2 linked regions of the Homo sapiens genome follow. The protein of the gene in region 2 purifies or fractionates together with the protein of the main gene of each other region. This does not show direct contact. Each region holds a gene or a part of one and is shown on either strand. Other genes may lie near its edges.

The links. The genes of interacting proteins can lie anywhere in the genome.
Region 1: the proteins of OTC (region 2) and FDXR purify together in Homo sapiens (affinity purification with mass spectrometry; 2 studies listed by BioGRID and IntAct, with this or other methods). This does not show direct contact.

The regions. Positions count from the first base shown.
Region 1 is NC_000017.11:74,862,988-74,870,028, forward strand, and holds part of FDXR (NADPH:adrenodoxin oxidoreductase, mitochondrial isoform 1 precursor), read right to left. Parts: intron 5,767-7,041; exon of another isoform or gene 5,579-5,766; coding exon of another isoform or gene 5,558-5,578; intron 4,019-5,557; coding exon of another isoform or gene 3,890-4,018; coding exon 3,797-3,889; intron 3,582-3,796; coding exon 3,459-3,581; intron 3,258-3,458; coding exon 3,144-3,257; intron 2,834-3,143; coding exon 2,732-2,833; intron 1,963-2,731; coding exon of another isoform or gene 1,945-1,962; coding exon 1,837-1,944; intron 1,578-1,836; coding exon 1,493-1,577; intron 1,361-1,492; coding exon 1,161-1,360; intron 1,081-1,160; coding exon 909-1,080; intron 260-908; coding exon 89-259; intron 1-88. UniProt on the Homo sapiens protein: Serves as the first electron transfer protein in all the mitochondrial P450 systems including cholesterol side chain cleavage in all steroidogenic tissues, steroid 11-beta hydroxylation in the adrenal cortex, 25-OH-vitamin D3-24 hydroxylation in the kidney, and sterol C-27 hydroxylation in the liver.
Region 2 is NC_000023.11:38,397,594-38,404,634, reverse strand, and holds part of OTC (ornithine transcarbamylase, mitochondrial precursor), read right to left. Parts: intron 3,361-7,041; coding exon 3,207-3,360; intron 1,018-3,206; coding exon 895-1,017; intron 1-894. UniProt on the Homo sapiens protein: Catalyzes the second step of the urea cycle, the condensation of carbamoyl phosphate with L-ornithine to form L-citrulline. The urea cycle ensures the detoxification of ammonia by converting it to urea for excretion.

The DNA of each region.
Region 1 (7,041 bases), on a different chromosome or scaffold from region 2:
CCTCCCAGAACAGCCCCCTCCCAAAGAGTGAGGCCCAGAGAAGGACCACCCACCCCACCTCCCAGGACCTCAGCATCGGGGCCCAGACCTCGGCTGCTGAGCAGGGCCTGGATGGCTGCGTAGCCAGGCCTGGGGCCAGAGGGGAGCAACCCAGCCTTCAGGTCCTGCAGCAGCATCTGGCCGGTGAGGAAGCTGTCAGTCATGGTTGTGGCTATGACACCTGTAGGTCCTCTCTTCACCCAGCCGCTGCAGTAGAGGCCTGAGAGGGGGTAACAAAAGGGGAAGGGAGGGAGGTGGCTGGATACCACCCTGGCCATCCTGTGCCCACAATCTACACCCACGTGCACGCACACAGACACCCCACGCCTCTTGGCAGACTGTCGGCTGAGCCTGCTGTGGCCGCTGGTCCACTGCCCTGGATTCTTCTCTCCCTGTTTTTACCAGGCCGACCCCCTTACACCTCAGTTTCCCTGTAGATGAGGGGATCCCTAAGCTTAGGAGCTGAGGCTTGCTCCCCTGCAGTTTCAGTAGGCCCTTGGTAAATGTTTACCAAGTGAATTAATCACTAGATAGGTATGTGGGCACTTAGTAAAACTGGAAGCTCCCTGAGGACACAGGCTGCCTTATTAATCTCCAATCCCAGCACTAAGCACAGGGCCTAACCCAGAAAAGACCTCAGTAAACGTTTGTTGAATGACTTAATGACCCGACGTATGTCACATATGTCCTAGCCAGACTGGAACTTCTCTCAGGGCCAAGAGGAGGGCGGCACTGGGTCCTAGAGAGGGCCTGCCCTGCAGAAGCTTCTCAGTACATGTTGCTAGATGAATGAACGCATGGCCCCAGGAGATACCAGCTTCTCGGCCTCTCACCATAATTCAGCACCCAGCCTCCTCACACCCTCTCACCTGGCACATCCATAACCCGGCCCTCCACATTGGGGATGACCCCAAGCTTGGAGTCAAAGGGCACGCTTGGGTCGACAGGGCGGCTCTTATACCCAATGCTGCTGAGCACCAGCCCACAAGGGAGGTCTTCCATGTCTCCCGTGGGCACTGCACGGGTGGCCTCATCGACACCCTGTTGGGGAGAGTGTGGGCAACACCAGGCGGGTGGCAGAGGCCTGGGAAGGGGGTGTCTTTGGGAAACATGAGACTCACCTCCAGTCTAGTGACTGCTAGGCGGACACCTGCTGCCCGCCGCCCATCTGGTGAGGGCAGCACCTGCTGGGGGCTTCGGAAAAAGCGGAGGCCCCAGGCACGGGAGGCCGATGCCTGGCGGGCAGCTTCCGCCGGCCCTGGCTTCTCTGTGGCCGTTCGAAGCAGCAGTTCCGTCAGCCGCTTCCTCGGGCGGGGGACCTCTGTCAGCAACGTAGAATGTCTCCAGGCTGTCCCTGGGCCCCGGCCCTCTCCCTGCATGCCCTTCCCCAATCCCTCTCTGACCTAGGCCACCCTCTCCCTAGTAGTTGGGGGGCCAGGCCAGGGCCCCTCACCCTTGATCTTGTCCTGGAGACCCAAGAAATCCACAGGATCCAAAATGGGCCGGGCTCCCGGTAACTGAATCATCTCCCGAAGCTCCTTGAAGGTGGGAGCAGGGAATGGGGGAGGAGGTCAGGCCCAGAACACAGTCCACCTGAGCCCACCCCAGGGTCCAGCCCAGGCAGGAGAGACCACCACCCGCCTCCTCCCCAAAGGCACAGGGCCCCCGGGGCCCTGACTGCTCCCCTTCTTCCATCCCAGGCAGCAGCTACTCCCAGGGGCTCTGCCCCACCCCAACCCCTTAAGGAGAGGCCCCCTCCACCTGGAACCCTGGCTCCTCCCACTCTGGCCCCAGCACCTTAATGGTGAAGGCCACTTGCAGGGGTCCACGCCGGCCCACTAGCCACACTGTCTTCACTCGACTCTGCCTCAGTACACCCAGGGCTGCCTTCGTGATGTCCGTTCTCTGGCACAAAAGGAGGGCCTTGGAGTCATCAGACACTGACCGAGGAAAGGGGACTCTCCATTTGGTCATGTCCCCACCGTGGGCCTGGAGAAGGCTGGCGGCTCAAAATTGCGCCACTGCTCCCCCCTGGTGGCCAGATGGAGCATTGCTGCCAACTCTGCAAATGGCTCCAACTAATAGCACACCAGGCCCACACTTTCATTCAACAAGTATGTAGTGGGCCTCTACCATGTGCTCACCCCCATGCAAAGAGCTTGGAGGGGCGGGGTGGTCAATGGTGAGGAAAAGAGACAAGGAGCAGGCCCTCTCAGAGCTTGTGATCTGCTGGGGAGAGAAATACTCATCAAATACTCATCAATGTGTGTAAAATTGCTGTGGCGATGATATGCGGTGAAACAGAAGTAGACAGGTCTATGGGAGGAGGCACGATGGGGGAGTGGACCAATTCAGGGAAGTCCTGGAGGAAGGGACAACCGAGCCAAGATCTCAAAGATGAACTTTAACTGTTAACTGGTGGGAGGTGAGTGGGGATGATCCAAGCAGGGGATGTGGCTTACTGAAGAGTAAGAGAAAAACGCCACTTAGCTGGAGTGCAGAAAGTGAAGGGAAAATGGTAGAAGAGGAAGCTCATGGCACTGCCCTTCAGAGAGCCTCTGCCTGGGCACCACGGGGAAACAGAGGCACTGAGCCCAGCTTGGAGAGGTAAGGCCTGAACCCTGCAGACAAGGGCACTCTCTCCTCAGGGTGACCCCACCTCCAACCCCGCCAGCCCTGACCTACCACTCACCTCCAGGTGCTCAGGTGGGGTCAGTAGGATGCGGGCCACGTCCAGAGCCACGTTCCCCTGCCCCAGAATCACGGCTGTGTCACAGCTCAGGTCTGGCTCCAGCTGGAGGGGAAAGGTCTTGATAGGGTCCCCCAGCCTCGCTCCACTCAGTTCATCTCAGTCTGCAGGTGCCTCATGCCTGGTCCCCACTGTGCCCTGGGGCTTCCCCACACCGGGAAAGTCCACAACTCTGGTCCCTCCTCCCCCACCTGGACCCAGCTCTCCCCCGAGGCCCTCCACAGCTGGCCTCCCGCCTCAGTCAGCACAATGTCACAGCTCGCCACTGGATGGCAGCTCCCTCTTCCCCCAGGTCTGGCATCCAAGGGCTGAGGGGCGGGGAGGAAGAGGCAGCGGGCGTGCTCCCCATACTCACCTCCTGGTTCTCAGGAAGCCCGTTGTACCAGCCCACGAAGGCCCGGGCGGAGCACACACCTGGCAGCTCCTCACCAGGAATTTCCAGGGCCCGATGGTCCTCTGCCCCGTAGCTCTGATGAAAGATGGCAGGCCCGAGACCCACAGCCTTCAGCACCAGCACTGATAGGCCGGGCAGCCCCCCAGGCTCCCAGCGGCCTCCTTCCAGCTTCTCAGCAGCTTGCATCCTGGCCTCACCCCTGCTGCCTTCCACCCCGAGCCACCGGCCTCCTTCTGCAGCCCCTGCCTCCCCAAGCCAGGGCCTAGCTGCACTCACCAGCACCACAGCGTGGTAGGCCTCCTGCAGCTCCGGCACCGTCACGTCCCTGCCCACCTCCACGTTGCCCCAGAAGGCACAGCGGCCAGAATGGGCCGTCTGGGTAAATGTGTTGATGACATTCTGCCAGGTCCCCCGGGAATGGGAGGGGTTAGAGGGTAAGGCAGCTCCAGGGACCAAGTCTGCACCACCCTCACCACTCTGTGTCCCCAGGAGGGAAGCTGGGTGGCATGGGCACAGACGGCATGAAGTCCTGTCATCCAGCCAGGGAGCCTCCCTGCCCTCCTCATCTTGACCAAAGTCTCCAAACCCCAGCCTCCAGGCCCAGAGACACCCACCTTCACCTCGGGGTGATCAGGCGCCACACCAAAGCGCACCAGGCCAAAGGGCACAGGCTGTTTCTCGTAGATGTCCACGTGGGCCTGGGGGTGCTGCTGGGGAACAGGGTGGCAGCTGGTGGGGCCGAGAGAGAGAGGCTGGGACGCCCCCAGGTCCTCCCCTTCCCCAGACAGAGCAGGAGAGTTCAGGACCCTGGGCTGAGAACACAAGGCTTCCACCCTCTGCAAGGAAAAAGAGCACTCACTCCTTGGGTGGCTCGCGCCTGTCAGCCCAGCACTTTGGGAGGCTGAGGCAGGTGGATAACCTGAGGTCAGGAGTTCGAGACCAGCCTGACCAACATGGTGAAACCCTGTCTCTACTAAAAATACAAAGATTAGCTGAGCGTGGTGGTAGGCACCTGCAATCCCAGCTACTTGGGAGGCTGAGGCAGGAGAACCGCTTGAACCCAGGAGGCAGAGGTTGCAGTGAGCGAAGATCGCGCCATTGCACTCCAGCCTGGGTGACAGAGCAAGACTCTGTCTCAAAAAAAAAAAAAAAAAAAAAAAAAAAGACGACGACGGCCGGCCCTCAGAGATGGGGAGAAATGTGGCCAGCTGACAAGGCCGTGGCTTCCCCCGACTGGAATTATATCAGGGCGGCTTCTTTATCTTCTCAGGTCAAGCACAACCCACAGCCCTGGCCTCCAACCCTTCGACACTTGGGACCCTCAGGTCCCAGCCAGTCTGAGGACCTGAGGGCCACCCTCTGAATTCACAGGTGCCTTAGCTCTAGTGCCCAGGACCATGCTCTGGGGAAAGGGGAGCAGCAGGACAGGGAGGGGGCACGGCTGGGAATTCACGGGAAAGAGAGGTGGAAATGGGCCTGCTCCCACTCTTAGAAAGACAGTCTCAGGCACTGGTTCTGCATGACCGCCTTCCCAGGGCACCTTGAGAGGCCGTGTGAAAGGCACAGGGTCGGGGGTCCAGCAGGCAAGTCTGGTATGGCTCTGCCACCAACCAGCCACATGATCCCAGCAAGTCCCAGGGCCTCCCCAAGTCTCAGTCTCCCCCTCTGCACACTAGGATGGATGACAGCTCTCTCTCATGGCTGCTGGAAAGCACCAGGAGGTCAGGATGGTGAGACTCTGGGCCACAGGCCGGTTAGCAGTAAAGCAGTCAGGGGTCCCACAGCTGACACGCCCAGCCCCCCATCCTATCTTAGGTCCCCGCTATGACACCTCCAGCTTCACTGGGACTCAAGGCAAAGAAGCCCCTGCCCATCAGTCTCCCTACCCCCAACAAAGGCTCCCACCCACCTCTTCGCCTTTGCCCAAATCCCCCCTTCCCCTCCACTCCCCTGCCTGCACCCAAGTCCACCCTCCCCCACCTCCTGCCTCTCTCCATCCCAGGCCAGCCACAGGGGGCTACCCAAACCACCTCCCTCAAGCCCCACGATGTTGTACCCACAAAGCGCTCTGGGCTTGGAGTCAAACAGGTAGCCTTGGATGCCAGTCCCAGCTCTAGCACTAGCTGGCTCTGTGCACTGGGGAAAGTTTCTTCTCTGTCCAAAAGAAGAGCCCTGTGGTGTCCTGCTCAAGGTTAAATGAGTAATCAGGCAGCCCGGGGTGCAACCTACTCTGAGTGTTCAATCAAGAAGAGAGCTATCATTACTATTCTGTTGTTGTATGTCACTGCCTTGCTCAAAAATCTTCGCTGGGGCCCAGTGCCACAGCATAAAGTTCAAACTGCTCGGCCTAGAGGTCAACACCTCACCCAACCAACCTCTCTGTCCTTATCTTCCATTCTTTCCTGCGACAGATCCTTCACTCTGGGTCACGATGTCCTCTCCAGGGCCACCTCCGGAACGCTAAGTCTGCCGGATGTTCTTACCCCTTATCTCTCGTGGCTGACCTCATCTTCCAGGTTTCCTCCTTCCTTCCTTCCCTCCCTCCTGTCCCTCTAGCTGCTCCCCGCTAACAAGGACATTCTCTGAGGTTCTTCCGATTGGCCCCCCTCCCTCCTCCCTGAGGATTTAACCCACTCCCTCCTGCGACCCCAAATTCCCCTGAACTTGCTGATGACTTTCTACTCTCTCTCTCCTGCCCAGACATCTCCCCAAGCTCCAAACCTGAGACCCTTGGATGTCCCACCCCAGACATCTCAAATCCATCCAGTTTCAAGCCAAGTCCCCTTGCCCCAAACCGCTCCCCACTTCTGCTCCTGTTCCCTCGACCCCATCCACTCAGAGCCCAAGCTGGAACCTGGGGCTCCTCCCTGACCCCCGACCTGATCCCATCAATCCCCCATCCTCCCAGTCCTCTTCCTCACTACAACCCCAGCAGCTCCCCACTGCTATCTGGCCACCAGCCCTGCCTGGACCTACGCTGCAGGCAGAGGGGGCATCCTGAAGGAAAACAGCAGCCCGAAAACTCTCCAGTGAAGCCAACCATCTACAGCTGTGGGCACAAGAATCCTTCGGGGTGTTTAACATTGCTGACTCTTGGGCCCAGCCACAGAGTTTGATTAGGTCCAAGTTAGGCCCAGGAATGTGCATTTTGATAAGATGCCCCGGGAGACTCTGATCAGGGAAGAGGAGGCAGCTGTGGACACCTCCCAGCGAAACCTGCCTCCAGAGCCTGGTCAATGGCTTCCAAGCCCCCCAGGATCTGGGTCCTACCTACCTCTCAGCCTCGGCTCTCACCTCCTCACGCCTTACTGCACACAGGCACCTTCCAGAACTTGCCCTTTCCCCAGAGAGCCATTCTCTTCCTCTTTGTTCACGCAGTTCTCTGTGCCTGGGACACTCCTGCTATTGTCCCCCAACCTGACATCTACTGTCCTTCAGACTGCAATTGGGACATCTCTCCCTCCAGACTGGGCATGGACCCCCTCCCCGCACCCCAGTCTCTGTGCTTATAGCCGTCAGAGCCCTAAAATACCTTGTAAATTATCCACCTGTCCCCTCCACATTCGAATGTCAGGTCCTCGAGCACAGGGACCACGTCTGTCCTGTTCACCCCCATGTTCCCAGTAAAGCCTGCGCCCAGAACATGTTACGTCCAGTAAATGATTACTGAATGGATTAACATGGATGGCCTCACATGGAGCTGCCTTCGCTCAGATCCCAGTGCCATCCCTGCTCCACGGTGGAAGCTTGGACAACCTCACTTGGCCCTAGCATCCTTACCTGTGAAGCAAGAGGCACGACACCTGCTTTGCAGGTTGTCATGAGGATGCTACGAGATGCTGTGCTCAGTGCCTGACTC
Region 2 (7,041 bases):
CTGGCCTAAGGTTGATATTTAGTAATGGTGCTGGAACATTTATTTTTCCATGTGAAAGAATATATATAAATAAAAATATATACCATCTACGTTTGTGTAAGTACACGGTATGATGTTCCCACAACAACAAAGTCATCGAAGGACCCATTTCTCAGAACATATCCCTGTTATGAAGCCACACATGACTGTATGGTCAAAATAAAGTGTCCCTCCTACCTCTATCCTCAAACCTCCCAGTTCCTCTCCTCAGAGGCAACAATTATTACCAGTTTCTTGTGTATCAAAAGGTTTACATTGGGCCTATGAAAGAAGTCATGTATTCCATACATGCTGTGAGAGAGCAGCAAGGTAGGAAGTATGCAGGGGTCATTTTCATAGCCATGTGGGGCTCAAATTTTCTAAGCCAAAAGGTCCCCAGAGTTGAGTTTTGAAATACTAAGCTGGTGTAGATGCCATCACTGTGATCCTCACATTGGATTCACATTTTTCTACCAAATTGCAGTGTTAGAAAAATGACAGTATCATTCCCATGGGTTGAGAATTCTATGCTGCCTGGATTTTATTGCTTTCTTCAGCCTTTGTGGTGGTAATGCACAATGCCAGTCATCATAATGGCCTACAGCAGGGTATTCAAAGGAATAATTCAGACATGCTTTTAACACTAACTCATAGAATAAAAGGCATCAGCCAAGACTATCTCTTATTGTAGAGATGGGAAATTGGACTCTCAAGAGGCCAGATAGCTATTTAATAGTAGGGCTGGTAACGTAACCTAAATTCTGTGGCCTCACCTGTGCTATACTTAAATGGAAGAGAGCTTTTTTTGTCACTGGGTAATTGCATCTGAGGATGATTTAAGAGAGGGGTTAGTTTCAAGGCAAAAAGTTTCCCTACCTTTGGAGTAGCTGCCTGAAGGTGCATTCCGAATTTCGCTGCGCTCATCATGATGGAGTGCAGGATATTGTTCCCATCCCCGATCCAGCTGAGGGTAAGACCTTTCAGAGAGCTATAGTGTTCCTAAAAGGCACGGGATGAAGGAGATGAAATCCAGGCGTAAATTCGCTTATGTGTAGCAATTACTAAGGTTAAAATAAATAGTCTTAATCTCAGTATTAGTGCCTTGTTAGAAGGAATGAATTCCCAATTTTTTTGCATTACACAGAGCAACTCAATAATATGAATGTACAATCCCAAAAACGTGGTAAAATGTCTTAATATCTTAAACCAAGACACCATATGAACTTGAACAGAGACTAAGAGTTTCATACATTTCAAATCTGAGTCTTAGTTGTATTCACTCATTGGATACAAATGAGCACCATTAACATCCAGACACTGAGACACTGTCCTTGGCCCTGGAGATACAATAAACAAAGGAGACAAAAATCACTGCTTTTATGGAGCTGAAATTCTTTGGTATGAGAAAGGGGAAATACAGAATACCTGGAACAGTGTAGCATAGTGGCTCAGAGCATGTTCCCATTATACGAAGTTGACAAAGATGCTCAATAATACTGTTAGTTGGCCAGGTGCAGTGGCTCATTCCTGTAATCCCAGCACTTTGGGAGACCAAGGTGGGCGGATCACCTGAGGTCAGAAGTTCGAGACCAGCCTGGTCAACATGATGAAACCCCATGTCTACTAAAAACACAAAAATTAGCCAGGCGTGGCACACACTTGTAATCCCAGCTACTCCGGAGGCTGAGGCACAAGAATCGCTTGAACCCGGGAGGCGGAGGTTGCAGTGAGTTGAGATCATGCCACTGCACTCCAGTCTGGGTGACAGAGTGAGACTCTGTCTCAAATAATAATAATAACAAAAATAATAATAATAATACTGTTGGTTGTTTATGGCTATAGATATGTGTAAAGATACTAACATCAGGATAATAACATATTTGTGGAAAGGAAGAAAATAAGATTAGGCAGAGTTACATGGTGGGCTTCAACTCTATCTTTAATGTTTTATTGAAAAACAGCAAAGAATTATAAAGTATCAACATCATGTTAAGAATTGACAAAACTGTGTGAACACATGAATGTTTGTTTTATTTTCTTGAAGTGTCTGTAGGTTTCATATATTTTATATATTTAAAAAGATTAAAAAAGAGAAAGGCTAAGCAATTTGGAGATCACAGAACTACTAGTTGGCTAAGCTAGAATTTAATTCCAGATCCATCTGATTTAGATTCCATGCTCTTAACAAGCTGCTATTTATTCATTCAGCTCCTACTTTAAGTGTCTCCTATATGAAGGCATTGCACAAGGTCCTGCAGGGGACATTATGATGAATAGGACAGCTCATTTTCCCTCAATGAATTTATAATCTAGTAATGATAAAGCCCCAGGGGGAAGCATTAAATTATCTGGTGTATATGTAAAGCCACACCCACAGACAGCCACTTTGGTATCTGACATAATTATATCATCTTCTCTGCATGGATCTCATCCTCATGTCCAAAGTGTTTTATTTTGAGCTTAACCTCACATTTAAATGTGTGTAGTTTATTCAAATGTGGAAGAAGATGGGCCTATCCAGTTTATCTTGTCTCCTCAGAGTTATCCATAGACATAGAAACCATGGCTGTTAGGATTTCCAGGGGCAATATAATGTAGATTGGCTGTGGCAAACCAAACAAGAGGAATCTTTCAAAGTTATTCAAGTTCCTAATTTGGGAGGACTAGAATGGCTAAATTTGAGCCCCAATTCTATAAATTCTGCATATTCTTAACCCTACTTTAAATAACCAGTTTATTAAAATGATAGAAAGTGTCCCCCTCTTCCAGAGTGACTTAGTAACTAACCTTTTTGAATATTCAAAGCACACTCCACCAGTCTTCACTCCCAAGCCACAGACCTGATGTCTATAGAATCACATATGGCTTGTCCATTTTGTATGCTCCAGTGTTCTCTATTCATTCATTGTGTTAAATATGGCACCGAAAAATCAAAGGGATTGACAGAACATAAGATGAGATATGGGCTAAAAGGGTTTGGGAATAGGGTTGAGTGCAGAGCGATCTTAGAGTCTGTTTTTAACAATGTCCTGTTTTCCCCAGAAAATGCACACACAAGCTGTAATTCTTTGTCAAGCTGGTATTTGAAAATAAAACACCAATACCATGATTTAAGTAAACTGTTTCACTTAAAGCAAGTCAGGAATTATTTGATTTTGCTCTTTTGTAAGACAAATAAATAAACCAACCTGGAGCGTGAGGTAATCAGCCAGGATCTGGATAGGATGGTACAAATCTGACAGCCCATTGATAATTGGGATGGATGCTTCTTTAGCCAGGGTGTCCAAATCTGATTGTTTATACACTCGAGCCAATACTGCATCTGCCATGCTAGACAATACACTGTGGCAAACCAAGAAAAAGATAATCTAAGATAATTATGCTTAATAATGCCTTATTTAATATAAGATCAGAAATAATAACAAGAAATACTAATAAATAGAATTTTTACTACATGAAAACCTACCAACATTACAGGTTTAAAAGGTAATATTAAACATGTATTCATTACATAAGCCAGATGTTCTACCTCCCACGACTTATCCAGTGACCAGCGATTTTACATTTTTTATGGAGATAATTGTGGGCCCAGCAGACATAATGATGAGTTATAATTAATAAATGGCCATTGGTTAAAAGGGACAAGACCAAAAGCAAGATATACGGAGAAACATTAATGACCTGCCATATGGCTAATTTTCTTTCACATCATCCAACAGAAAAAAGATACATTTTCACTGTGGAATTGCAAGTCCCAGTGTGGCAGCCATGGAAGTGCACACACAGATCGCCCTACAGAAGAGAACTTGCTGTGAGGAGAGCCATTGGCTGACACTCTAGCTGCTACACCTTCGGATGCCCTGCAGCATTCCTGCCAAGGCCACCCTCCCCAGGCTGTTCCAACCTGATGACAGAACACAGTGGGGAGAATAGCGCTGGGCCATTCCTGCGTGACAGGGACCTCTCTGATAGACAGTCTGTGCTCTGGGGCTCCCCACCAGCCTGGCTGAGACTTTCTCAGAGCTGCGCTACTGGCTGAGGCTCTCTCCCTACCCACGCATCCTTCTTTCCCACAGGGGTCAGACCTGCCTCCCTGTCTGAAGGCCCTCTTGCCCACTCCTGCTGCCTCTCTCTTTATGTTTCTTGGTGGTTCCCTCAATAAATCTCTTGCAAGTCTAATTCCTTCTTGAAATCTGCTTAGTGGACCTGAACTGACACAGAAAGCAATAAACTCTGGTGCTTACAAAATTCAAGGACTGCTTGGCCCCAGGGATTAGAGAATCAAAGATTAAAAACTATATTCCTATAACAATATTTTTCTAGACTTAAAGATCAGATTTTTTCTAATTTTTAATGGATTTATCATGCCCATGGCTCCCAGATTTTCAAATTTCATGAACCAGCAAGATTTCCAAAAATATGTGGAGATCAACATAAGATTTGCAACTCTTTATTTACCAAATTAAGAGCATGAGAAAAGCAAATAAACAGGTATAATGTTACTACCTTAATTTAATTTAAAAAGGATATTTTAACATCAAAAAGGTGTGAAAGACAATTTCAAAGAAGAATCCTTGAAATGAATTATTTGAGCTTTATGAAATTTACTATATAATTCTTATCCTTATTTTTCTTATTCTACCACTTCTGATGGAAGCTTCTCCACACCAGGGTCAGTGGGGATAGAGATTTGTAAACCACTGCTTTGAACTATCTAAGCGCGCTATATTTTATAGCATGAGAAGTGAATAAAAGAGCCATTTTTAAAAAAATGTGATATTGGTTAACTTTTGATGGTGGACTAAGACAAGGGGTTTTCAAATTTTGCTGCACATGAAAGTCACTTGGAGAATGTTTGTTTGTTTTTTTTGAGTTGGAGTCTTGCTCTGTCTCCCTGGCTGGAGGGCAGTGGCGTGATCTCAACTCACTGCAACCCCCTCCTCCCAGGTACAATCGATTCTCTCACCTTAGCCTCCCAAGTAGCTAGGATTACAGGCTCGCCACCACACCCAGCTAATTTTTGTATTTTTAGTAGAGACAGGGTTTTGTCATGTTGGCCAGGCTGGTCTCAAACTCCTGACCTCAGGTGATCCGCCCACCTCGGCCCCCCAAAGTGCTGGGATTACAGGCGTGAGCCACCGCACCTGGCAACTTGGAGAGTTTTTTAAACTCTTGATGCCCAGGCCATATTCTCTATCAATTAAATCAGAAAAATCAAAATCTCTAGGAGTGGGACCTAGGGATCATTATTTTTAAAAATATTCTTACTATATTGTAACGTGCTGCCAAAGTTGAGAACCAAAGCTAGCACCTTGCCCCTCAGAGTAGCAACATCAGCATCATCTGAGAGCATATTAGATCTTCAGAATTTCAGGCCCCACCCAGATTTACTGAAGCAGAATCTGCATTTTAACAAGGTTTCCAGGTGATTCATTTGCATATTAAAGTTTGAGACTCCTAAGAAAGAGGGAATTGAGACTGCCATATTTTTGAAAGCATCATCTATTATTTTCTTAAAATCCTAACCAGGCAATATATCAAGACTAGACAAAGCTTCTGAGATGGCAGCCCACAAAAACAGAAGACTCTGTCTATAATATCCTTGGCAGGGAGGGAATTGAGGGAAAAAGGCAGCTAAACTCCTCTGAGCAAAGAATAGTTCACCACCTTCTGTTAAGGCCCTTCTCGTTAGAGAAGCAACTACCCTTACTTATTTGATGCCCTAAGACAATGGTTCCCAGACTTGGGTGTGTATCGGAACTAAGTGAAGAACTAATACTAATAGATTACACAGAAATAGAGTAGGTCCTAGGCCTTTGTCCTCTTACTAAAACAGACATTCTGTTTTTCATACTATAAGAATGCAAGCTTCTGTCATGGAAAAGTAACTTAAGTGGAGGTAGATATGTCAATAAGGTATATAATTATAATCAACTATCAATTCCCTATATCAGATGAATTGGTTAATTTTATGATGTCTAAAACCCCAAGAAAGAGAGAGAGAGAAGGAGAGGGTGGGGGCAGAGGGGTGTTTAATCCTAGAGGTCATACTTCAGACTTCTTTAAACATGTAGCACTCCCTAAAGTGTGTACAGACAAATAAAAAAAGTCTGGATTAACACTGCAGTTGACCTTCTGGAATCTCATAGCCAGAAAAGCAGATTTGACTTCTATTATAGCCTCTCAAATCATTTTAGGCAGCTAGGACCTTAGGCTGCCAACCTGTTATGGTTTTCTCGAACTTTACAGTATGTTGTTGAATTTTGCTAGATTTAGTGTGTGTCACATGCAGACATTATCTTAACCTCAAAGATGAAGAAATCAAGGCCTTTTAAAACCTTGAAGTAATTAGAGCAAGGTTAGGAAGGAGTGAGGAAGATGAGACTGAAAGACAGAAATGCTAGCAGAACAATTGGAGAAGTCAACGACCTGTACACATGAGTCTTTCAAGAAGACTGAAAAAAAGGCAGGTGTGTTTTTCTCTCTTTAGCAAGTCCCCATCCCCAAAACTCCTGAAGCAAAGCAGTCAAAAGATAAGCATGCATTTAATTTTTCTGTTTATAATGTCAAGCTGGTATCCCTGGAACCTCTGTGGTGTAATTTCATGGGAGTATGCCTGGTTGGCTTTATTCAGGTTGCAACACTTTTCTAGAACAGAGGTTCTTTACTTTGGCTGCACATTAGTATCACCTATGGAGCTTTTACAAAATCCTGATGCCATATTCTGCTTTTTGGAAGGTTAAATCAGAAGCTATGATAGTGAGACCCATATCAACATTTTTAAAGCTCCCCAAGCTAATCCAGTATGAAGACTAGGCTGAGAACCATTGTCCTAGAAAACGGAGTGAGAGAGGAGGTGGGAGGAAAGTGGGCTACTGTGCCACTGGGTGACACAGTGGATCAATGTAGAGGAAGAAACTCTTAGTAATTGCTGAAATCTCATACAATAAGAAAAGTAAGGGATAACGATATGATAAGCTATACTGGAAAGAACAAGATTTTACACACTTATAAAAGACGTAT